Regions from separate parts of the Homo sapiens genome. Here all the other regions are reported to be linked to region 4. Evidence: microRNA targets listed by miRTarBase, many of them from high-throughput screens and not tested one by one. Region 4 holds a microRNA gene; each other region holds the end of a gene's coding sequence.
The links. The annotated mature microRNA hsa-miR-4760-3p reads AAAUUCAUGUUCAAUCUAAACC and lies in region 4 at 2,717-2,738, shown strand. An mRNA with a match to its seed (bases 2 to 7 or 8) in the 3' UTR can be bound and repressed. Matches are read on the target gene's strand: a 7mer-m8 pairs with bases 2 to 8, a 7mer-A1 pairs with bases 2 to 7 and ends in A, and an 8mer does both.

Region 1 (5,106 bases), not on the chromosome of region 4:
CAGTGATAGCAATAGCAGCGACAGCAGTGACAGCAGCAACAGCAGCGATAGCAGTGACAGCAGTGATAGCAGTGACAGCAGTGACAGCAGTGATAGCAGCAACAGCAGTGATAGCAGTGACAGCAGTGACAGCAGTGATAGCAGTAATAGTAGTGACAGCAGCAATAGCAGTGACAGCAGCAACAGCAGTGACAGCAGCGATAGCAGTGACAGCAGCGATAGCAGTGACAGCAGCGATAGCAGTGACAGCAGTGACAGCAGCAATAGCAGTGACAGCAGTGACAGCAGCGACAGCAGTGATAGCAGTGACAGCAGTGACAGCAGCGACAGCAGTGATAGCAGTGAAAGCAGTGATAGCAGTGACAGCAGCAATAGCAGTGACAGCAGCGATAGCAGCGACAGCAGCGACAGCAGCGATAGCAGTGACAGCAGCGATAGCAGTGACAGCAGTGACAGCAGCAATAGCAGTGACAGCAGTGACAGCAGCGACAGCAGTGATAGCAGTGACAGCAGCAACAGCAGTGACAGCAGTGACAGCAGTGAAAGCAGCGACAGCAGTGACAGCAGCGACAGCAGTGACAGCAGCGATAGCAGCGACAGCAGCGACAGCAGCGATAGCAGTGACAGCAGCAATAGCAGTGATAGCAGCGACAGCAGTGATAGCAGTGACAGCAGCGACAGCAGCGATAGCAGCGACAGCAGCGATAGTAGTGATAGCAGTGACAGCAGTGACAGCAGCGACAGCAGTGACAGCAGCGACAGCAGTGACAGCAGCGACAGCAGTGACAGCAATGAAAGCAGCGACAGCAGTGACAGCAGCGATAGCAGTGACAGCAGCAACAGCAGTGACAGCAGCGACAGCAGTGATAGCAGTGACAGCACATCTGACAGCAATGATGAGAGTGACAGCCAGAGCAAGTCTGGTAACGGTAACAACAATGGAAGTGACAGTGACAGTGACAGTGAAGGCAGTGACAGTAACCACTCAACCAGTGATGATTAGAACAAAAGAAAAACCCGTAAGATTCCTTTTGTGAAAAGTTTGGTAATGGGATAGGAAAAAAAGATTTCCAAGAAAGTAAAGAAAGGGGAGAAATAAACATAAGACGTATGTAAACAAAAACAACTGGGGGAATCAAATCAAACAGTTGGATTCAGAACCAAGACCTAACTCCTGCAGAGACAGACTCTGAATGCATGACCTTTGGTACATGCCTGTTAATATTCATGTTCTGAAAATATTTTGTTAAAAGTGTAAATCTAAACATAAAAGAACAATTAAAATATTCTTTAATACTTCACACAGAAACCTCAAGTAATCACTACATGATAACTTCAATTTAAGTGCCATGTGCTGCAGAGAATGTAGCAGGCAGACACATCTTAAAAGCAACCTGTGGCATTGCCTTAAGTCTCCATAGTTATATATTCTGGAGAGGTGGTCTGCTTACCGCTGAGTAAAAGATGCTGTACTGTGATAGCCAACTTGGCTTTGGATTCAGTTGCTTGTTCTATGGAAGAAATACATTTATTTGTTACATGAAAAAAAATTGCAGCTACTATTCAACCTACCTGGGCTATGGGAATAATCTTTCTAATGATCAAATAGAGTAGTTATAAGTCACAGAAATTCTAAAGAGTGCTAGTCAGAAAGAGCTCAGAGACAGGTTGATGTATAAAATCTGATCTGTAATCTGATGTATAGCATCTGATGTTAAAATCTGATGTAAAAAAATACATCTCAACAAACCACTGGAAATTTAGTACAAAGTCCCTAAAACTATTGACAAAGCTGATGCAGTGCTTAGAACAGTGTCTTACTCCCAGGAGCCACTCTCCAAATGTTAACCAGTAAATGACACATGAATGACTCTGGAGGAGCATCACTTAGAAGCGCGGTGGCTCACGCCTGTATCCCAACACTTTGGCAGGTCGAGGTGGGCGGATCACGAGGTCAAGAGATCGAGACCATCTTGGCCAACATGGTGAAACCCCGTCTCTACTAAAAATACAAATATCAGCTGGGAGTGGTGGCGCGCGTCTCTAGTCCCAGCTACTTGGGAGGCTGAGGCAGGAGAATCGCTTGAACCCAGGAGCGGAAGTTGCAGTAAGCTGAGATCGTGCCACTGCACTCTAGCCTAGCGACAGAACGAGAGTCCGTCTCAAAAAAACAAACAAACAAAAAAACTGTGTTATGTGGTATCAATTATTTATCTTTACATCAGTCTCACCAAGTCATTCTTAGTTCACATTTCCCTTGAAAACCTCAACACGCCAAAACTTCTAAACCAGACCCTGAGTCTCCCTTCCCACTATTAATCTCTTTAATAAAGCTAAAGCTGCTGGTGGGTAATGGTTTGGAAAACTTCTCTTTCTTATTTGAGAGTCATATATGCAGTTACGATCTGAGTATATATCACTCAGCTTTGGCATGAATGAAGGTAATTCTTAGCCCCAAGATGAAGCCCAATTTCTAGAAAATGACAATCTTAAAGGTGTATAGAGAATAGAGATTGATATTTAATAGTGTGGAGATATAGTTTATCATCTAAATTAGGGCACTTTGGAGAATGAAAGGGGTGTTATGAGTAATTATACGGAGACAGGAGATATAAATTGGGGTTGTCCCAGGGAAACTGGGAGATACTATAACCCTAACCCATAAACCTTAAGGGTATTTTTCAAGATTTAGTAGTGACGCTTTGAAATCTCCATCTTTTTCCATTGAGGTAATTATTTTAGCTTTGTTCTAAAGCAAAGCTGAAAATCTATAGAGTGAGATTATGAATGCAACTTCTTTAATGTTAATTTTCAACCAGTTGTTAGTTGACCATTTACCTTCTAATATTAGGCATATTTTATGAAGAGTTTCAGGAGGTTTATTTTTCTGCCTTCTTCCTCCTCTATGCAAGTGTCCTTAGGTAAGAGATCAACATTGTGAGGAGTATTGTTGAAGACTTTAAAAATACTATTCATAAACTTCTTGGTAACTCTTAAGAGTGCAAAATGTCCAGGTTTGTACTACATCACAGTCATGTCATGACTCTAAACTTCTTTCCATATAATATGTTCTAGGTTTTTAATTTCTTTAGATTTTAGGGTTTTTTCTTTCGTTTTGTTTTGTTTTAATTTGTAAAGCATTGCTTCTAGTATGTGTCACAACTATTTCAAAAGGTTGCTATGAACACTAAGTCAGGCAATGGACATGGAACTCTGTAAACTACACAAGATACATAAATGAAGGAGATAAATCTCGGTGTTATAATAAATATCCATTTATTAAAGTAAATATCCTTTTATACAATTGCTCACAAAGAAAATTCCCTTCATCCTAAAGAGTTTGCAAATACCCCCTCTATCACAAAATCTGATGTATAATATTTCTTTTAAAAATTAGCTATTTTTAATTAAAAAAGTAATATATGTATATGCACAAAATAAAAAAAACAAACACCATAAAGAGGTATACAGAAGTATTATCTTAAATCTTGACCCTTCTACACTCCCAGCCCTCTATATCTCTTTCCTATTGCCTATAAGCAATTCCCATTACTAATATCTTGTGGAGCGTTTCAGAAATATTCTATGTACATACATTCCCCTTTTAAAAACATGTGGAAGTTTACTATACACAATGCGTTCATCTTATTTTTTTCAATTTAATAAATACCTTAAATATTGGTTCATAGCACACAGATCAACTTCATTTTTCTTCACGGGTGTGCTGTATTTCGTTTTATGAAGTGCCATAAGGTATTTGATCTGCCTTTATTGTTCCATCACTTTCTAAGCCATTTCCAGTCTGATAAAAGTCTCTGCAGATATTGCCTGCAGTAACAGCCTAAGCTGGATCAATTTCTAGCCAGTTCTTATAAAGAATTTACTTTAAGAAATATTTAGAGGCAGGGAATGTTCAGAATCTAGGGTTGATACCAGAAGTAACAAAGATATGATCTTGATTTTCTTATATAATCACATCTGCATTGACTTCTGGACTTTCAGGGAAAGAATGGAGCAGACACACTACAAAAGAACATCGCAAAAGTAGATCCTTTGAACACAAGAAGTCTGGTATTAGGAAACAAAGCTTATTTTGAGTTATTTTCTGGAATAAAGATTAATAGGCTGTCTGCTAATATTGCCCACAAAAACAGTATTTTTTAAACTGCAGGTTGCCACTCATTTAGTAGATCATATCAATTTAGTGACTAATGATAAATATTTTATAAAACAAAAGAATAAAAAAGAAAAATCATAATGTACCATCTGTACTGTTTTGTGAACCTGGATCATATCTATCTATATATGTACACACACAAATATGTCCAAGTGTACATGTAGTAGGACCTGATGGAAAATGCCTTTCTTATTGTTGATTGTAGTTTTAAAAAGTTTGAAAGCCATTGGTTTAGAAAATAATTACTGCTAGTAATCATTTTATATTCACTTTTTCACATTCACTTTTTCCCTAGAAACCTCTAAGTTTCTTTCCCACTTTGAAGCAGAGATTTTAAAGAAAAAAGAAAGAAAGAAAGAAGGATGTATGTGTAGACGGACAGGGAAGAGTGGCAGTGGAATGCGTTTCTAGATTTATCTGTACCACGGTAAAAAGAGCCAAGGAAACATTGTCACTCTTGAACAAGAGGCTATCAGGATGGTGCTGGTGGACTTGTTAGAAATTCAAGATTTCTTTCTGGCTGCATGGATTACTCCACAGATGACTGAAGACAAGATCTGAAAACTTACTCTCAGAGGTGGTCTTGTCCTCCCCATCGACCGGAGAATTCTCTCTGTGTCGGTCATACCACAAATCAGGAAATGTGGTAACAGGTTTTGTTGTTGTTGTTTAAAAAATATATTTTTTACATAAAAAGATAACATTTATAAAGTTATACTTCACCATACAAATACATTTAAAATTATTAACTGAAGTGTAATTTCCCAGAAGTCAAACTTGCTTTATGATTTGTAATGGAAGTTTTGAAAAACTTTAGACCAAAATAACCAGGAACAATTTTCCTCTCCCTAAAAGGAGCAGGAACAGAATAGAATAGTTTAGTCATAGATGAAAATATCATTGTGTTCTCACAGTGATCCATTCACTGC
Region 2 (5,106 bases), not on the chromosome of region 4:
GCCTTTGGCCAGAAGAAGTACCTCATAAAACATCAGAACATTCACACTGGAGAGAAACCCTATGAATGTAACGAATGTGGAAAAGCCTTCTCTCAGCGAACATCACTTATTGTACATGTGAGGATTCATTCAGGTGATAAACCTTACGAATGCAATGTTTGTGGAAAAGCCTTCTCTCAGAGCTCATCTCTCACTGTGCATGTGAGAAGCCATACAGGGGAGAAGCCCTATGGTTGTAATGAATGTGGGAAAGCTTTCTCTCAGTTCTCAACCCTTGCTCTGCATTTGAGAATACACACAGGTAAGAAGCCTTATCAGTGCAGTGAATGTGGGAAAGCTTTCAGCCAGAAGTCACACCACATTAGACACCAGAAAATTCATACTCACTAAAAACCCCATGAAAGCCTTGAAAGTGGGAAAGCTTTCATTAGAAATTTGCACCTCATCATGCCCCAGAAATAATCCTTCTGAAGCAAAGCACCACGAATGAGGTTAACTTTAACAAGTACTAAAAACTTAAGGGACACCAGAAAATTTGTACTGAAGAGAAAGACATGCATATGATTAAAACCCTGTGTCCAACAGAGAAACCTGCAGCAGAGATAATGGTGAAAGTTTAGGCACATTTTCACTAAAAGTGGGAACAGAAAATGGAGGCCTGTTTTTTATTGCTACCACCATAGATCTGGAGATCTTCGCCAGTAACAAGAAAAATTAAGTTGTAAATATTGGAAAGGAACAGACAAAAATAGATGACATGGTCATCTACAACTAATATTAAGACTCCTGTGGTATTGATTGAGCAGAGCAGAAGAGATTTCAAAAAAAGACCTATGCATTTATTAGAATTTGGAATATGATACAAGTGGCATCAGGAAATGAGGAAATAATGGAACTATTTTTTTTAAGTGGAGGTAGTTTGTTCTCCAAGGGGGAAAAATAGACCATGAACTATACACAAAAGTGAATCCAGAGATTAAAAACAGAAATATGGAAAAGCTATGTACTAAAATGCATATGACCTTGGGAATAGGGAAACATTCCTTGGAACAATTTGAGAAATACTTAGCGGTTCTACTTATGAGTATGAATGCTCAGGAAATACGCACTAGGATATTTACTGTGGCTTGATTTGTAGTAGCCAAAAATTAGAAACAACTGAGAAAGCCCATCACGAACAATATGGGAAATTCTTATGTAATACTATATATCTGTAAAATGCAACAAATGAAATCCACATGTATTAACAGAAAGATCCCAGAATTGTTGAGGGGGGATCAAGTTGCAGAATGATACAGATAGTACAATGACTTTTTTGTAAATTTGAATTAAAAGTTTCCTCATAAAACTCAGTACTATCTATTGGTAATGGATGCATATATGTATGTACATGTTTTTGAAACGGATTGGAAGGATACAGACCAAACTCTTGATAGTGGTCACCTGTGAAGAGTGGAGAAGGGAAAATAATGAGTGTGGGAGGTGGGATGGGTATTGGTTAAAGGGGACTTCAGCTTTTTATATAAACATCCACTTCTCTTTCAAAAGACTTCAAGTAAATATAAGAAGATACTGATTGATTCTGGATTGTGGTATAGGGATATCTTGTCTTATTTTTTGTACTTTTCTGTATTTTTAAAATTTCTCAAAATAGGAATGGGAGTGAGGATGGGAATGCTGTATCTGTGGAAGTCATGTTATACTGGATTCATTTCCAATTAAATACTAAACATTTTATAGAAAATATTTCTAAAATTTTATCACGGATGAATGGATGGACTTGCTCTCTATGTAATATGAAATTAATCTATTTTATTAAAATTTAAAAGGACAGCACAATCCAAATCTGTTTTAATTATTTTAACATGGCATACACACTATATCGGGGTCCCCAGCTCCCCCCAGCTGCATGGCAGGAGGTGAGTGGCGGGTGAGCGAGCATTGCCACCTGAGCTCCACCTCCTGCCAGATCAGCGGTGGCATTAGTTCTCATAGGAGCGCGAACCCTATTGGGAACTGTGCATGTGAGGAATCCAGGTTGTGCGCTTCTTATGAGAATGTAACGCCTGATGATCTGAGGTGGAACAGTTTCATCCTGAAAACATCCCATCCCCATTCTTCTACCCCCACAAACCGTCCGTGGAAAAATTGTCTTCCATGAAACAGGTCCCTGGTACCAAAAAGGTTGGGGACCGCTGCACTATATGATCTCTGTCTTCGTATTTCTAACATTTTGCAGAATGAGCTTAGAAAACTTTAACTTTTTCTTTGTTCATACATGCACAGGCTTCATATAATTGGTCTTTTTCAGTTAGGCTGATTTTGGAATGTCAGTTTTCCTCTCCTGCATATTTCCATGGGAAACGTGTGCATTAAATATTAAATTTTTGATAATATCTTTTTTTTTTTTTTTCCCATCTTGCTCTGTTGCCCAGGCCAGAATACCATGGCAGGATCTTGGCTCACTGCAATCTCCTCTGCTTACTGGGCTCAAGCAGTCCTCCGACCTCAGCCTCCCAAGTAGCTGGGACTACAGGCACGCACCACTATGCTGTGCCAATTAAAAAAAAAAAATTGTAGCGATGGGGTCTCCGTATATTGCCCAGATTAGTCCCAAACTCCTGGGGTGAAGTGATTCTCCATGGCCTGTTCAAGTGCTGCCATTACATTACAGGTATGAGTCACCATGCCCAGCTAATTTTATTTTTAAAAAGAGAAAACAACTTCCCATAACTTCCACAGTTCAGTGCATTAGATACCAACACCTGCGTGTCTGTCTTAACCTGCGAGCTCTGTCACTCCTCCCACTGCTGTTACAGAGAGAGAATGGGACGGGTATGAGAAAAATGGCTCAGACCCTAGACAGAGTTCTATTTTGTAAACCAGCCCTTCATGAAAATTTTTTTATTCTTTGATCACATTATAATATAAAGAATATTATTAAAGGTTTTCTTGAATAATGGTGAATGTCAATAATATACAGCATTTGAGCTTGATTTTGAAACCTTAAAAAACTCATTAAATGGCACTGCATCACTGTATCTTTTAGCCTTTTTGGAGGAATTAGATACTTAAATGTCTAAATGAATCTGCCCTTTATATTATGATGTACCCCATCTTTTTCTCTGTTTTCCCTGTTTGCACATATATTTCACATTTAAAGGTGTTGTCTTTATGATACAGTTGGCCCTCTGTATCCATGGGCTCTGCATCCATTTATCAACGAACCCTGGATGGAAAGTGTTTAAAATATACAACAATTTTAAAAATACAAATGTTAATATACAACTATTTGGATAGCATTTACATTGTATTAGGTATTATGACTAATCTAGAGATGATTCTAGCTAGGCATGTGCCACACATCTGTAGTCCCAGCCACTTGGGAGGGTGAGCTGGGAGGATTGCTTGAGCCCAGGAGTTTGAGGCTGCAGTCAGCCGTGATTGCACCACTATATTGCAGCCTGGGTGACAGAGACCCTGTCGAAAACAAACAAAACCAGGAGGAAAAACACAGGGATGGAGACAGATCAGTGGGAAGAGAATTGAGAGTCCACAAATGCTATGGGTTGAATGTCCCACCCAAAACTCAATGTTGAAATTTAATTGCCATGGTAATGGCATGAAAGGTTGAGACCCTTAAAATGGCCATGAAGGGGCTGGTCGTGGTGGCTCACACCTGTAATCTCAGCACTCTGGGAGGCCGAGGCGGGTGGATCACCTGAGGTCACGAGTTCAATACCAGCCTGGCCAACATGGCAAAACCCCGTCTCTACTAAAATTACAAAAATTAGCCGGGTGTAGTGGCACACACCTGTAATCCCAGCTACTTGGGAGGCTGAGGCAGGAGAATTGCTCCAACCCAGGAGGCAGAGGTTTGCAGTGAGCCAGGATCGTGCTACTGCACTCCAGCCTGGGAGACAGAATGAGACTCTATCTCAAAAAAAAAAAAAAAGATGTCCATGAAGTCTCCACTTTCATGAGTAGGATTGGTGTCATGATAAAAGGGCAAGTTTTGTCCCCACTTGCTGTCTCTTGTCTTTCCTCCATGGGATGACATAACAAGAAGGCCCTTGCCAGATGTCAGTCTCTCAGTTGTGGACTTCCCAGCCTCCAGAACTGTGTACCAATATGTTCTTGTTCCTTATACGTTAACCAGACTCAGGTATTCTGTTATACCAACACAAATCAATTGATACACTGTGGGCAACTGATTTTCAACTAGAATGCCAAACTTATTTAATGGAGGAAAGAATAATTCCCTTAAAAAATGATGTCGGGGGCAGTGGCTCACGCCTGTAATCCCAGCACTTTGGGAGGCCAAGGCGGGCGGATCACAAGGTCAGGAGTTCGAGACCAGCCTGGCCAGCATGGCAAAACCCCGCCTCTACTAAAAATACAAAAATTAGCCAGATGTGGTAGCGGGGGCCAGTAATCCCAGCTACTTGGGAGGTTAAGGCAGGAGAATCGCTTGAACCCAGGAGGCAGAGGTTGCAGTGAGCCGAGATCGTGCCGTTGAACTCCGGCCTGGGTGACAAGAGCAAGACTCTGTATTAAAAAAAAAAAAAAAAAAAGTGTTGGGGCCGTGCGCAGTGGCTCACGCCTGTAATCCCAGCACTTTGTGAAGCGGAGGCGGGTGGATCACCTGAGGTCAGGAGTTCAAGATCAGCCTGGCCAACATGGTGAAACCCTGTCTACTAAAAATACAAAAAATTAGCTGGGCGTGGTAGTGGACACCTATCATCCCAGTACTTTGGGAGGCTGAGCTAGGAGAATCGCTTGAACCCAGGAGGTGGAGGTTGCAGTGAGCTGAGATTGTGCCACTGCACTCCAGCCTGGCAAGAAGAGTGTCAAAAAAAAAAAAAAAAAAAAAAGCTGGGACAATTGAGGTACAAAGATGAATTTGGACTCTTGCTTCACACCGTATACAAAACTTAACTCAAAAGTGTCCAAAGACCTAAACATAAGAGATAAACTCTTGGAGGAAAACATAGGAACATAGGAGTAAATCTTCATGACCTTAGATTTGGCAACGATTTTGTAAATATAATACCAAATATAATACCAAAGTATAAGCAGGAACAACAAAAGTAGATAAATTGGATT
Region 3 (5,106 bases), not on the chromosome of region 4:
CCGCCACCTCGCCCGGCTAATTTTTTTGTATTTTTAGTAGAGACGGGGTTTCACCGTGTTAGCCAGGATGGTCTCAATCTCCTGACCTCGTGATCTGCCCGCCTCGGCCTCCCAAAGTGCTGGAATTACAGGTGTGAGCCACCGCACCCGGCCTTTTTTTTTTTTTTTTTTTTTTTTTGAGACAGGACCTCCCTCTGTTGCTCTGTTCCAGATGGAGTGCTGGAGTGCAGTGGTGTTATCTCTGCTCACAGCCTCCATTTCCTGAGCTCGAGCGATCCTCCCACCTCAGCCTCCTGAGTAGGTGGGACTACAAGGGCATGCCATCAGCCCAGCTAATTTTATTTTAGTTTTTTGTAGAGATGGGGTCTCCCTGTGTTGCCCAGGCTGGTCTTGAACTGGACACAAGCGATCTTCCTGCCTCAGCCTCCCAAAATGCTGGGATTACAGGCGTGAACCACTGCACCTGGCCAAGTTTTTCAACAACAAATAATTTTTTTTTTTTTTGAGATGGAGTTTCGCTCTTGTTGCCCAGGCTGGAGTGCAATGGCACGATCTCAGCTCACCACAACCTCCGCCTCCTGGGTTCAAGTGATTCTCCTGCCTCAGCCTCCTGAGTAGCTGGGATTATAGCCATGTGCCACTACGCCTGGCTAATTTTGTATTTTTAGTAGAGACAGGGTTTTTCCATGGTGGTCAGGCTGGTTTCGAACTCCTAGCCTCAGGTGATCCGACCGCCTTGGCCTCCCAAAGTGCTGGGATTATAGGCGTGAGCTACCGTGCCTGACCCTTCAACAACAAATAATTTTGGAGAGTGCAGTTGTGCCAAGCATAGTTCTAGGCACAGACCAACACAACCCTCAGAGTTCCCAGGAGAGTAGGAGGCTACCTATAGATGGGAAATAAGTAACTCGAGATTGGGTAGATGCTACTAAAACAAAATCAGTCCAGGTGCAGTGGCTCATGCCTGTAATCCCAGCACTTTGGGAGGCCGAGGCGGGCGGATCACCTGAGGTCAGGAGTTCAAGACCAGCCTGACCAATATGGAGAAACGTTGTCTCTACTGAAAATACAAAATCAGCTGGGTGTGGTGGCGCATGCCTGTAATCCCAGCTGTTCGAGAGGCTGAGGCAGGAGAATCACTTGAACCCAGGAGGCGGAGGTTGTGGTGAGCCAAGATCGCGTCATTGCACTCCAGCCTGGGCAACAAGAGTAAAACTCCGTGTCAAAAAAAAAAAAAAAAAATTAGCCAGGTGTGGTGGCATGTGCCTGTAATCCCAGCTACTCGGAAGGCTAAGGTAGAAGAATTGCTGGAACTGGGAGGTAGAGGCTGCAGTGAGCCAAGATCATGCCACTACACTCCATTCTAGGAGACAGAGCAAGACTCCATCTCAAAAAAAAAGAAAGAAAGAAAATCAAACAAGTTGTGGTGGGGTGGTGACCCACCTGGATGTGTTGAGCTAGGAAGGGCAAGGAAGACCTCCCTGAGAAGGGGATATTGGGATTGGTGAAGCTATTGGGGAAAATGTCCACTGGGAAAATTTAACAGTTAGGGCAAAGGCCCTGGGGTGAGAAGGAGCTGGGGTCAAGGGAGCCCAGTTGAGTGATGGAGAGAGTGGGAGATGGAACTGAGAAAGTTGTCCGAAGTGAGAATAAGTCAGTCCTTGCAGGTCTTGGTGGAGCTGGCGCTTTATTGAGTGTGTCAAGAAGTCACTGGAGGCTGGGCGTGGTGGCTCATGCCTGTAATCCCAGCACTTTGGGAGGCTGAGATGTGAGGATCGCTTGATTCCAGGAGTTCAAGACCAGCCTGGGCTACATGGCACAACCCCATCTCTACAAAAAATACAAAAATTAGTCAGGTGTGGTCCACGTGCCTGTAGTCCCAGCTACTTGGGAGGCTGAGGCTGAGGTGGGAGAATTGCTTGAGTCCATGAGGTGGAGGTTGCAGTAAGCTGTGATTGTACCACTGCACTCCAGCCTGGGCGACAGAGCCAGAGACCCTGTCTCAAAAGAAAAAAAAAAAAAAAAAGGCACTGAAGGTTTCAAGGAGGAAGACATGATTCAATTGCCATCATATTGGGATGCAGACCTGGTTGCTTACCTTTTATTTTTATTTTTTACAATTCCACAGCAAGTATCACACCTGGTTGCTTTTTTTTTTTTTTTTTTGAGATGGAATCTCGCTCTGTCACTCAGGCTGGAGTGCAGTGGTATGATCTCAGCTCACTGCAACCTGTGCCTCCTGGATTCAAGTGATTCTCCTGCCTCAGCCTCCTGAGTAGCTGGGACCACAGGTGTTTGCCACCATGCCCAGCTAATTTTTTGTATTTTTAGTAGAGACAGGGCTTCGCCATGTTGGCCAGGCTGGTCTCAAACTCCTCACTTCAGGCAATCCTCCCGCCTTGGCCTCCCTAAGTACTGGAATTACAGGCCTGAGCCACCGCGCCTGGCCTGTACCTGGTTGCTTTCTTTAGATCCTCTGGGCCACCTCATTCCTCTCTCTGGATTGGCACCCACCTCTTCAGGTTATCCCTCCACTTTCTGACAATGACCCCTTCAGGTTGAGAAATCTGGCTTTGACCCAGAAACCACAAGCAAAATCCCCATCCTTTCTCCACCCATGGACTATACTCAGGTGTTGTTCCTCCTCGCAGCCCTTCCAGAAAAGTCCCTAATGCTGTGTAGCTCACTTGCTTCATCTCTTCAAAGACCATTGTAAAGGCATAGCCTGTACAGGTATCACATTACCTCTTCCTTCACTTCCTTCACCTCCTTCTCCTCTCCTGTATCTCAGCAGCCTGGGCTCGTACCTCCGAAATAAAGCATCAGCACAGGTCAGGCACAGTGGCTCATGCCTGTAATCCCAGCACTTTGGGAGGCTGAGGCAGGCGGGTCACTTGAGGTTAGGAGTTGGAGACAAGCCTGGCCAACATGGTGAAACTGTCTCTATTTTAAAAAAAATACAAAAATTAGCTGGGCGTGGTGGCAAGCACCTGTAGTCACTGCTATTCGGGAGGCTGAGGCAGGAGAATTGCCTGAACCCGGGAGTGGAGGTTGCAGTGAGCCAAAATCCTGTCATTGCACTCCAGCCTGGGTGACAGAGTGAGACTCCGTCTCAAAAAAAAAAAAAAAAAAAAAGCATTAGCACTATAAATCTAATCTGGGCTCTGCTTCCTAGCCAACTCTCCTAAAGAGGTCTTTTAGTACTGGGGGTCTTTGGGCATTTTCTTGCCCCTCTGGGCTCAGCAGCACATTCAGTGACACATACTCCGTGTGACTCAGTTTCTCCCTCCTGTGCCCACCCACGTGGCTGGTTAGTCTAAGAAGCAACATTTATAATAGTGAAGGACAAGGCTCTGGAGGCCATTTCAGCCTAGCTCCCTGGTCCTTGTTCTTCCTAGCTGTGTGGCTCTGAATTAAGTGACTTGTCCTCTCTAAACTTCTGGTTCCTCCTGTATAAAAAGTGGTAACAGTACTTACTTCTATATGAGGATTAACAGACTTAATTCAAATAAAGTGGCTAGAACAGTGCTCTTAACAAGCACTAATTTTTTTCTGAGGCTGGAGTGCAGTGGTGTGACCATGGCTTACTGCAGCCTCAACCTCCCAGGCTCAGGTGATCCTCCCAACTCAGCCTCCCCAGTAACTGGGACTACAGGCCGCCATGCCTAGCTCCTTTTTGTATTTTTTGTAGAGGCAGTGTTTCGCCACATTTCCCAGGCTGGCCTCAAGCAGATCCTCCCAAAGTGCTAGGATTCCAAGTGGGAGCTAGAGCACTCAGCCAACAAGCACTCAATAAATGTCATGTACAATGATACACCTACCCCAGCTATGGCACGGAAGTGGTGCTGATGTTTAGGAACTTACCAGGTCCCTCCCACTGACCCAGTGAAGTTTAGAAACATTAGACAACATCCCTCCTTCCAAAATACTTTTATTTAAAAAAATTACAAACAATCCAAAAAAAAAAAAAAAAGCCACCACAAACTCTGCCTTTCTTTTAAATAACCCGGCATGGAGCAGTTTGGTTTCCACCCTATTGCACGTGGTCCGGCCTGGTTATGAAATCAGGAGGCTGCTGAGACTGGGGTCCTGCCGAGGAAGTGGGGTTCAGCCTGGAGGGAGGACACCAGCCCCTCCCACCCCCTCAAGGTGCAAGAGGCAGAGCCTGGGTTTCTATAGCAACCTGGCAGCACATCCCTGTCATCCTTCGACAGGCCCAGCTTTCTTTATCTTCCCTGAGGCCCCAGTGGTCACAGGGGAGTGGGAACTAGCAGGAAAGGTGGAAGAAATGTGTAAGTGGAAAATCAGACTCCCAGAAACAGAGTCTCGTTAAGGCATTTGGAATAGATAAATTAATTCAGGAAGACCCACCTTCACAGAAGGTCGGGGTAACCAGACACACACACACATGCAAGACAGTTTGTGGAACCCTGAAATGGGAACAAAGGAGGCCATAGTCACTGCTTCGAGCCCCCACAAAAACACACACCCAGAGTTGCATTCAGGGATCCAGGCCACCGAAGATGACATGAGGAAGGATCGATCCCCTCTATCACAGTTTTAGGACCCCAGAATGATTTCCATGATGTGATCCAGTTCATTCCACTCCCAAGAACCTGGGGCACAGAAGAGGTTGTGAGGAGGCTCTGGTGGGGCCCGTGCAGGCTCCTTTTCTACCGCAGATGTGTCAATGTCCAGAAAGAAGTCATCCAGGCCAGAGTCCCCCAAGTACCGGGAGCTCAGAGCTTCTAAGAAGACTGGATCAGGCTGGGGTGGCACTTCATTCTGGAGGCCAAGGGGAGTCACTGGATTCTGAGGGGGCTCAGTCCCATCCATGGAGGTGTCCAGCTCCCTGAGGATAGAGCCAATGGTGGCTGACAGGGAGAAATCCTCCTCGCCCAGGAAGAGGGGCTCGGGGGGCAGGGCAGGGGCGGGAGCCAGGCGAAGTGCAGCCTGCAGCTGTTGGAGGGTGTTATGGATGAGGACATGCCTGCGGAGGCTGGGTGCTCGGGGGCCCAGGCTGCGCTGGACTTTGTCTAGGGAGATGCGGAGCAGGGCTTGCTGGTAGCTCTGAAGGCCTGCTGGACTCCACTCCCACCTCTCCTC
Region 4 (5,106 bases):
CAGGCGCCCGCCACCGCGCCCGGCTAATTTTTTGTACTTTTAGTAGAGACGGGGTTTCACCTTGTTAGCCAGGATGGTCTCGATCTCCTGACCTCGTGATCCACCCGCCTCGGCCTCCCAAAGTGCTGGGATTACAGGCGTGAGGATTCCATATCTTTACAGTTGTGAATTGTGCTGTGATAAACATGTGTACAGGTGTCTTTTTGATATACTGATTGCTTCAAGAACTTAGGAACTCTGGAGTTTGATGCATATATATTTACAATTGTTACATCTTCTTGTTTAATTGGTCATTTTATCATTATATAGTGACCTTTGTCTTTTTCTTGTTGTTTTTTGTTTTGTTTTTTTTTTTTTTTTTGCTGTTGTTGCTTTGAAGTCCGTTTTATTTGATATCAGAATCGCTACTCCTTGTTTTTGGCTTCCATTTGCTGGAAATCTCTTTTTCCACCCTTTACCTGTAGTCTATAAGAATCCTTACATGTTCAGTGGTGTTTCCCAAAGACAGCGGTGTAGGCTGCTACTCACAGCTTCTTTCAAAGCTGTTTACGGTCCTGTGTTCCTTCTTGGAAAAAAGTTCACAGTGTGAATCTCTACACACTATTTTATCTTTCCAAGTGGAAAAGGAATGCTAACAATGCCTATATTCCATCATCTTGGAAAAACAAAACAACAAGAAAAACCCAATGTAAATATTATCAGCACAGAATCTTTCTTTATAGGCTCCAAAATATACCAGATGCACACTTCATATTTTATCTTGATTACATATGCCACTCTTTAGAGTCTCAGCTAACTATGACTGAGTAAGAATGTCTTAGAACACAGGCTCCCACGTCCATGAGTGCATTAAATATTCTTATTTCCAAAGTGGCCAGGCTGGCTGATAGCTATGACTAGTTGGAGAGAAAGCAGCATTTATAGCCTAAGTGGGCTGGGCAACAAACTACCTGAAATCCTTAGGAGCAAGAATAGAAGGGATGCCTTGTTCTCTACACCCAGGTATCACTCATTGCCTGATGTCTCGCTTCGTGTGTTTGCTGGGTTTCCGTCTGTCTAGGAAAGGAAGCTCTATGGGGGCAATGACTCCAATGAGTTTGTCTCCCTTTATTCCTCACCATGTAGGTGTGGATTTGAGTGGACTCCAAATGGCTGGGCCAAGGGCCTTGGATACCAAACACAGCAGAAGATGCGGAAAGGATGAGGGACCCAGGGGTTCTGTCTTTGGGGGAAGAGCCCTGTTCCCTGGACATTGCCTCCTTATATCCCTGCACTAGAATATCGTAAAATTCCCCTAGTCAAAACCCATGATCCTGCATGTCTTGGAGAGGCTGCCTCAAGGATTCCTCCTTGACTCCACTTATTTTCATGGAGAAGGAACCCCTCCATCCCTGGCATCCTTAACAGATTCCCTTCTAGCTTCTCACCCACTCCATCTCCAAGCCAGGTTTCCCTTCGCTTCTAGAAATAATCTGCAGTGGCTGCCTAAGATGTTTTCTGCGTGGAACCCAAATAAAAATGTAATAATTTAAATTAGAATTTTCTACAATCATGTGTTGCTCATGTCTGCATTATGGATACCCAGGTCACATGTAGGTAAGCAATTAGCAATTATGGTGGAAACAAGACTTCCTAACAGGTATTTTGGTGGAAACTTGAAAGCTGTTTCTAAAGCTGTTTATTCATGCAAACCTCATTACAGTCCTGACAGTAAACCTATGTGTGCACAGGGAGGCAGGAGGCTGTGAGGCAGCAGCAGGATCCTTCACCCCATGGCTCACTCACAGTGCACTCTTTAACCAGGTCTTATTATGTCCATGCTTCTGGGGTGATTAAAATATGCCCTAGAAGCCTTGATACCCAAAATAAAGCAAAACGTGGAATATGAAGTTTAAAAATGTGAAATAATAAGTAAAAGTTTTGTGAAATACATTTTTCTATACTGTTCAAATGATCTTGAAGATGGCATCCGTTTCTTAGGTCTGCCATGCAAAATGACCACGATGGAGTGGCTTAAAACAACAGACGTTTCTTCTCTCACAGACATCTGAAATCAAGAAGTCAGCAGGGCTGGTGCCTTCTGGAGGCTCTGAGGGCACATCAGTTCCTCACCTCTCCCAGCCTCCAGAGGCTTCCTCAACCCTTCACACTGCTGAGCCTGTGGCTGCCTCACTCCAGTCTCTGCCTCCACCTTCACATGGCTTCTTTTTTGTGTCTCTGTGCCTTCTCCTTTTCTGTCTCTTATATGACATTCTTCAGTGGATTTAGGACCCACCCTAATGAAGGATGACCTTATCTAGAGGTTCTTACTTTCTTTAACTCTGCAAAGACTGTATTTCCAAGTAAGGTCATATTCTGAGATTCCAGGGGTTGGGATGTTGATATATTTTTGAAGGACCACAATTCAACCCACTAAAGGGATGAAAATTAAACTGAAAAATATCAACCCCTAAAAAACCTGCTTTATTGCCAACCATATAAATTGCTCTTTGTCACAATATACAACAGAGGCCTCACAAACCTTGGTGTTCTTGGTGTGAGAATGGTGAAAAACAAGATAGAAAGCAGCCTGAAATATGCACAGGGGTGTGTCATCTCGTTACTGGGAAAGGATGTACTGTCCAAGCGACAACTAGACTGCAGAGGTAAGGCTGAGACCAGGGCTGCCATGGTGTTTAGATTGAACATGAAGTTAGAATTCTTAAGTATCAAAACTAAATTCATGTTCAATCTAAACCCCATGGCTATGCCTCTCAAGGTGAGGCCTCTGTGTTGTTCTCTATGCCTTGAGCACCCTTCCTTCTTTGCAATAAAAAAAGTTGCAGAATTGACTGGGCACAGTGGCTCACGCCTATAATCCCAGCACTTTGGGAGGCCGAGGCAGGCAGATCATGAGGTCAGGAATTCGAGATCAGCCTGGCCAACACAGAGAAACCCTGTCTCTACTAAAAATAAAAAAATTAGCCAGGCGTGGTGGTGCACGCCTATAATCCCAGCTACTTGGGAGGCTGAGGCAGGAGAAATGCTTGAACCTGGGAGGCGGAAGCTGCAGAGAGCAGAGATTGGGCCACTGAACTCCAGCCTGGGCAACAGAGCAAGACTCCCTCCCACCCCCCACACCAAAAAAAAAAAAGCTTCAGAATTTCAGTCTCCCACAACAAAACCCACACACACACAAATTTGTGTAGCAGCTACTATTTGCCAACAATTAGGGTCTACACAATTAAGACATCATCTTTAACCTCAAGCAGTTTACAATCCAGAGGGCAATGATGGAGGAGAATAATGAGGTGTGGATAAAAGTGCCTATTAGCAGAGTATGCAGTGGAAAGTGTGATAACACTTCTAGATAGAAGGCAGTTGGTCCATAGGTATTTTGGTGAGAATCTACATGTCTGATGCATCATGGGCTGTACCAAGGACAAGTCACTGCCTTTGGAAATGTTTGACTCATGCCCTGATGGATAGGTGGATAGGTCTACACATCAAAAATGCATGCCTGGCTACACATTTATGAGAACAACAAAAATTTTTTAAAAATTATAACGCCACATGCTGGCAAAGATGTGGAGAAACTGGATCTCTCATGCATTGCTGGTGGGTATGTAATATGGTGCAGACATTCTGGAAAACTCTTTGGCAGTTTCTCATAAAACTAAACATGCACTTACCATGTGGTCCAGCAATTGTTCTCTTAAGCATTTATCCCAAAGAAATATGAATTTATGTTCACAAAAAGTTATATAAAAATATCCATAGCAGCTTTCTTTATAGTAGCTAAATTCTGGACAAACAGCAACAACAACAACAACAAAATGAATGTTTCTCACAGGTGAATGGTTGAAAAATCTATGGTCCATCCATAGTTTGGAATGCTGCTATTCAGCAATCAAAAGAAATGAACTGTTGACACACACAATAACCTAGATGAGTCTGAAGGGCATTACGCTTAGTGAAAAAAAGCCAACTTCAAAAAGTTATCTTTATAAAGCATTCTCAAAACGATAAAACAGCAGAGGTGGAGAATACCTTAGTGGATACTAGTAGACAGGTACAATGGGTAGGATGGGGCCAGGTGCAAACACAGACAGATAGGAATAAGGAATTCTTCTGTGGTGTGGAATAGTTCCTCATTTGATGGTGGTGGTGGGTACATGGACCTGTAATGGGATAAAGTTAAACGGAAGTATACACCTACAGAGCTACACGAGCACATACACACAAATGAATGTGGGTTAAAAATAATGAAGGTGGCCAGGTGCAGTGGCTCATGCCTGTAAACCCAGCACTTTGAGAGGCTGAGGAGGATGGACCACCTGAGGTCAGGAGTTCGAGACCAGCCTGGCCAACATGGTGGAACCCTATCTCCACTAAAAATACAAAAATTAGCCAAGCATGGTGGCACATGCCTGTAATCCCAGCTACTGGGGAGGCTGAGGCAGGAGAATCATTTGAACTTGGGAGGCAGAGGTTGCAGTGAGCCAAGATCGTGCCACTGCACTCTAGCCTGGGTGACAGAGCGAGAATCCATCTTAAAGAACAAATAAATGAATAAAAGATGAAGGCATCTAGTCTACTGGATAATGTTAACTGGGAATGTTCCCATGTGGGTTTCCTGGCTCTGATATTGCACCACAGCTATGGAAATTCACAACATGGCCAGAAGCTAAAGGACACACAGGACTCTACTATTTTTGCAACTTCCTAGGAGTCTGTATTGCAAAACTTTAGCTTTGTAAAAGTAAATGCCAAAAGATATATATGTGCAATAAATGTGAATATATACATTAAAAAGTTGTGGGAGTTTGGAGAAGGGAGAGCCCCTTGTAGGGGTGAGGTCAGGGAGGGCTCCATAGAGGAGGTAGGACGTGAGTTTAACCTGGAAGGTGGAATGAAATCCAACTTGAAGAACTGGAGGTAATTTTCAGAATGGCAAAACAGTGCCAGCCAGTCATACCTGGAAAAGGAAAACCATGTTCTCAGACCTCAAAATAGGGAATGGGGGAGGTGGAGAAACATACAAGGTATGTTTGAGTGCTGGGGTGGAATGTCTGGGTAAAGAAGGAGTTAGTGGGTAACTGGAAACATAGGTTGCAGCAAGATTAT
Region 5 (5,089 bases), not on the chromosome of region 4:
AAAATAATTCTCTTAAGATTGATACATCCTGACTATGTACTAACATGTCATGTCAGTTTATTATTTTAAATAGAATGTGCTAATAACATATCATTTTAAGGTTTATGTGAACTATTTCTCTGAAAGAATAAAAATTTGTCACTGTATAATTGAACATATATTGCACTTTGTATTCACAGGTTTGGGGGAGGCAGATCAGACATGTAAACTATGTACTTCTTGCTAATTGAAATTATTTCTACATTAAACAGACTTGTAGAATTTACTTATACATGCTTGACTTTTTAATTATCTTTTTTCTCCTTTTCTTAAAGATGATACTTGTTGATGCCACTGTTATCATCCTCCTAGCAGAAGATAGTCCTACTGAGAAAATGAGCACTTTGATCATTCAGTCTTTGAACTTTAACCTTTGACTGGAAGTGACCTATAGGCAATGAAGACTACTTCCTTTTACTGCATTTTTACTCGTGTGCATTCTGGGCGCATGTTGATCGCTGGTTCAGTCCAGGCAACTGACATGCTTTTATTAGTCATACAGTATTAATGCAGGTGTCAGGAAATGTCAAATATAATTCCATTTTTTATTTTTATTTTTTTAAGCTTTTGGAAAAGCTCCAGGTCCTCATGTATTGTGCAATAACAATGACTTCCTTGGCGGTTTTGGTACGTTCATTGCCGGCAATGGGCGTTGTAACAGGAAAAGTTTTCATTAACTCCTGCCATTCAATGATTAATGCATGATAGGGCCTATGAAATGAACTTACTGGTTATAGTGGGAATATAAATAAAGTGAGGGATCCAACATTACTTTAAAAGTCACCCCAACTGTTTATATTTGGATTCTATGCACTGTGATCCTAAGGTTAACAGCATGAATTAACATGCGTCTTTAAAGGACTGTAATGAAAGATCATTGCATATTTATTGAATTGTTTATATCTACTGTCAAGTTGTTTTGACATGGAAGATTTTCAAGTAACATTGGCAGAGAGGTACAGTATGTTATCCCTATGGTGAAAATAAATTAATTTGTTGTATATAGTTCCTCAATCTCTGAAGTAAAGGTATGAGTAATATAGGGTATGAATGGTTTAATCAAGGCTTTATTTTGGAAGTAAGAAAAATGGCAGTGATGATTAAATTGCTGCAGTCCATAATTTGGGCTTGTTATTTGTACATTAAAGATTTTTTCCAAGTAAGTTACACTCTGTTAACTTCCTGCTAGCCATCAGCATGAGCCCTACTGCCTAAACACTATTTCATTTATTTATGTTTGGAAACCCCGTAAACATTTTTGTTTGCAATCTTGTTTCTTTTGTTATAAGTCAAGTTTGAATGTTACAATACTTTTATTGAAACTTTTGTTAAGTTTTTTCTTGTAAATTTTCTTTACTTGTGAGTATCATCTTGTCCTTTAATCCTGTACCCTAAAATAAGAAATACATTTTTGACAGAGGCTTAATGTTTTAACAAAAGAGTGTGGACATTTTTATTTTAAAATTTAGGCAAAAGTCACTATCAAATGGTTGCTTATTTGTCTCACACAGCCATATAGTTTTTCCTGGAGGGTTTTGTTTTGTTGTTGTTGAAAAGACTTTGCTTACAGCTAGATGAAACTTTCTATAGAAAAAAAAAATTGTTGAAAGGTCCAGTTCTCAGTACCATGTGAGTTAATGATACTACAACTAAGTTCTTTTTAAAAAGTGATTAATGTATTTTATAAATTACCTTTTCACATATGCAAAATCTGTTTCTACTACAATGTTATTTTTACTAATGCCTTATTGTTGCACTCTTTTTGAAATATCCTGCAGTGAATATATGAATCAATTTGGGCTTAAAACTGAAAGCCAGTTGGCTGAAAGGTTTGAAATACGTACCCCAGTAAAACCATTCAATCAATAATTGGTAAATAATATTTTAAAATTGTTTTTAATCTGTATAGATGACATTTTGTAGCTTTGTACATGTTGTTAATTAAGGGCATATAATTTTACACTCAAAGTATAATTGCTGAACTCAGGGGTGGGTAGACTTCAAAAATATGTCTGCTATAGAAATAACTTGAAAAAAAAAATTAAAACCGTGGCCAGCCACCAAATTGTGGACACTGTTTATATACTGCTAGTTAACAATTACCACTTTTAAAAAATTATAACCGTTTTTGTTCTATCTTGACTAGATAAATTCTCACAATGATCTCTGTCAGTTTTATTAGTTGGCCTGTTTAACCAAGACAGAAAGTCTTTGAATTACTCATAGTTTTAAACTGCTTTTAATATGAAAATTGCAGCTGTAAATTATGTATTTTCATATTTTGCGTAACTGCTCTACACTACTGTTTGACTTGATCTTCTTCTGGGGGTTAGGGAGAAATCTGTCTCCATATTGCTGGTTCTCTTACCAAAATGCTTTTATAAAGAAATGACCGGTGACATTTATTCACCAAAGGAATTAATATACTGAGTCAAAGATTAACAATGCTATACTATAGAGTAATAGGTCATATATAGCCTCAATTGAGTTTTTTATGACAATATTTTAACATACCTCTCTCTCTACATATAAATACCATAAAGTAAACTAAAATGACACAGAGGAAAGTAGAGGAAAATGAAATAATTTCGGTACATCTTATGGTTTAAAGAGTAGAAAATAAGATGAAATATCCTAAAATATAGGAGCACAGACATTTAAAATTCATAATCAGGCTAACAACACTCTCTTGAATTTAGGAATCATTGAAAACTCCTTGCACTTAGATTTAATTTATATGTTAGTTACATTATTAAAAGTCATAAGGCATTTATCTGAGTCATTGCTCTACAGAGAGCAATTAATGGCTTGTAATAATAAAAAGAATATTTCTCTGTAATGCATTGTTGAAAGACAACCAGAATATCAAGAAAATGTATATAGGAATATGCTACTTGCCTCCTCCCTGCATTTCCTCGTGGGGCACTATTTGCGACATAGGCCTACAGAATTAGACTTTCATACTTAGAAGATAAGGTACACTCTTCTTCTTTTATTTATTTATTTATTTATTTTTAGGCCATTCTTCTGGTTTGCCAAATTCTATTAAGACAGTGATACATTTGCTTCCTTATTTATGCATGCTTAGATCATGAACATGATGCCCTTCTTTTTTTTTTTTTTCTTTGGTCAAGTAGGGATTAATGCCATAGGTTTAGAGAGAAGGATTGTTTTCAGTTTTTAAGAGAATTTTTTAAAAATACATTTTATGGTTCTCTTAAGGAATTAATATTCACTTCTGAAGGACTTACTTGTAATATATAATTTATCATTTTAGCCAGCAGGGAAATAAATCATTTTTAATCCCCAGAAGAAAGTGCTGGAAATAGCTTCTATATAGTCAGCAGTTCACCTGGAGAAAGATCTTAATTCCTTGTTGTTTTGACTAGGAATATCAATATTTGGTATAAAATAACTAGAATAGTTTATTACCTTTTCCCTCATGAAATTTTAAATATATGCAAATATATATATCATTAGATTCCTGTGGTGGATAATAATTTCTTCAGATTCTAAAACAGGTGTCTAGTGACTGCTTAATTGTTTCCAAGTTGCATCAAAGATGAATTGGTAAATAATGGAAATGAGTAGTGATATGAAAATGGTTATGTAACTACATATTACTTGTTTCTGGTAATCAAGTCTTATTTTTTAAAAGCCTATTGTTTTTCAGAATTGAGATATTTAAAACTTGTTATAACTTCTTCCTAAAAATAGAAGAGAAGAGGAGGTACTGTGTGTTACAAAAATTTTTTTAAATAAAGAATTCAGTGTCACTAGTTCTAAGCCTTTATGGTTACTGCTGCTTATATTTCTTGATCTCACTTTCATTAATTTTTTTGTACATATCTTAGCTGAATGCTTAAAATTTACAATTATTTGTAATTGTGTATGTAAATTGCTTTTCAAAAAGAACTGAAGCTTAACCATATTCTTCTTTTCTGAGGATTCATTATCAGAATCAGCTACTATACTGTTCTGTGTTATAGTAATGCCGTTACTGCCTGTGCATGATTGAGGTCTGTGAAGAAGGTGTCTTTTAATCTGCACCAACTGGCCCCAATCCTCTTTGTAGTCCTTTTTAAATTGTTTTAAATCTGTCCTTTATTTTTCTTCCTATTTTTCTGCCTCTTCCCACTGATGTCCAATGTGTCAGTCTTCCGCAGTTTCCTTTTCTCACTTCTAATTTATTCTCTCTTTTTTTTTTCTGAGGTTAGGGATTCTACAGAAGGACGATTATTAAAATTATGCCATGAATTTTTGAAAAATTTAAAATGCTCTCCTACAAATAAAATACATGGAGTTTCTGATACTAATTTCAGTTTGTCAGTAGATGGCTAAATTTGTTGAATAATTGACTACTTGGTAAATGAGCTGTTAGCTGTAATTAGTTCTTTAGTACTAATATTAAGGAAATTTTGTTATTTTCGGATGAGGACTCTCCCAAAGCCAAATTATTGTCCAAGCAAATTATTTATTTTTTCCATTTAAATTTCTAAGTCATTTTGAGATGTGGAATGATTATTTTTATTATTTATTTATTTATTTATTTTTGAGACGGAGTCTTGCTCTGTCACCCGGGCTTTAGTGCAGTGCACGATCTTGGCTCATTTCAATCTCCACCTCCTGGGTCTAAGCGATTCTCCTGCCTCAGCCTCTTGAGTAGCTGGGATTACAGGCATGTGCTGCCACACCTGACTAATTTTTAGTAGAGACAAGGTTTCACCGTGTTGGCCAGGCTGGTGTTGAACTCCTGACTTCAAGTGATCTGCCCACCTCAGCCTCCCAAAGTGCTGCGATTACAGGCATGACCCACCACACCCAGCCTGGAATCATTTTTTAAAAATAATTTGTGGGAGACTTGCTTTCTCAACATAAATTGTGTGTGGGTTGTTTTTTGTTTTTTGAGACGGTCTTCCTCTGTTGCCCAGGCTGGAGTGTGCAGTGGAACAGTCATTGCAGCCTTGACCACCTTGGCTCAAGCAATCCTCCTGCCTCCCGGGTAGCTGAGTCTACAGGTGTGTGCCACCATGCCTGGATGGATAGAATT

Region 1: the mRNA of DSPP is a reported target of hsa-miR-4760-3p. The part of its 3' UTR that is shown has no 7-base or 8-base seed match.
Region 2: miRTarBase lists ZNF146 as a target of hsa-miR-4760-3p. Seed matches in the 3' UTR shown: 7mer-A1 at 1,325-1,331.
Region 3: the mRNA of SERTAD3 is a reported target of hsa-miR-4760-3p. Seed matches in the 3' UTR shown: 7mer-A1 at 4,354-4,360.
Region 5: miRTarBase lists UBE2W as a target of hsa-miR-4760-3p. Seed matches in the 3' UTR shown: 8mer at 875-882, 7mer-A1 at 2,252-2,258, 7mer-m8 at 3,602-3,608 and 7mer-m8 at 4,292-4,298.

What each region holds. Positions count from the first base shown.
Region 1 is chr4:87,615,566-87,620,671 of GRCh38, forward strand. It overlaps DSPP (dentin sialophosphoprotein), which reads left to right. Exons shown (of 5, transcript NM_014208.3): 5 at 1-1,308. The coding sequence ends at 1,003. The region is part of intron 3 of DMP1-AS1 (DMP1 and DSPP antisense RNA 1); the gene reads right to left. Among named protein-coding and RNA genes, the nearest start is that of DSPP, 9.6 kb to the left of the region's middle.
Region 2 is chr19:36,236,930-36,242,035 of GRCh38, forward strand. It overlaps ZNF146 (zinc finger protein 146), which reads left to right. Exons shown (of 4, transcript NM_007145.3): 4 at 1-1,839. The coding sequence ends at 390. It also overlaps a transcript of ZNF565 not described here. Among named protein-coding and RNA genes, the nearest start is that of ZNF146, 24 kb to the left of the region's middle. RefSeq lists a silencer at 3,955-4,155.
Region 3 is chr19:40,436,930-40,442,035 of GRCh38, forward strand. SERTAD3 (SERTA domain containing 3) reads right to left here. Exons shown (of 2, transcript NM_203344.3): 2 at 3,915-5,106. The coding sequence ends at 4,561. Among named protein-coding and RNA genes, the nearest start is that of SERTAD3, 4.9 kb to the right of the region's middle.
Region 4 is chr21:40,209,991-40,215,096 of GRCh38, reverse strand. MIR4760 (microRNA 4760) reads left to right here and starts at 2,666; the gene lies at 2,666-2,745. All of the region lies in intron 11 of DSCAM (DS cell adhesion molecule), which reads left to right.
Region 5 is chr8:73,789,341-73,794,429 of GRCh38, reverse strand. UBE2W (ubiquitin conjugating enzyme E2 W) reads left to right here. Exons shown (of 6, transcript NM_018299.6): 6 at 315-5,089. The coding sequence ends at 328. Among named protein-coding and RNA genes, the nearest start is that of STAU2, 45 kb to the right of the region's middle.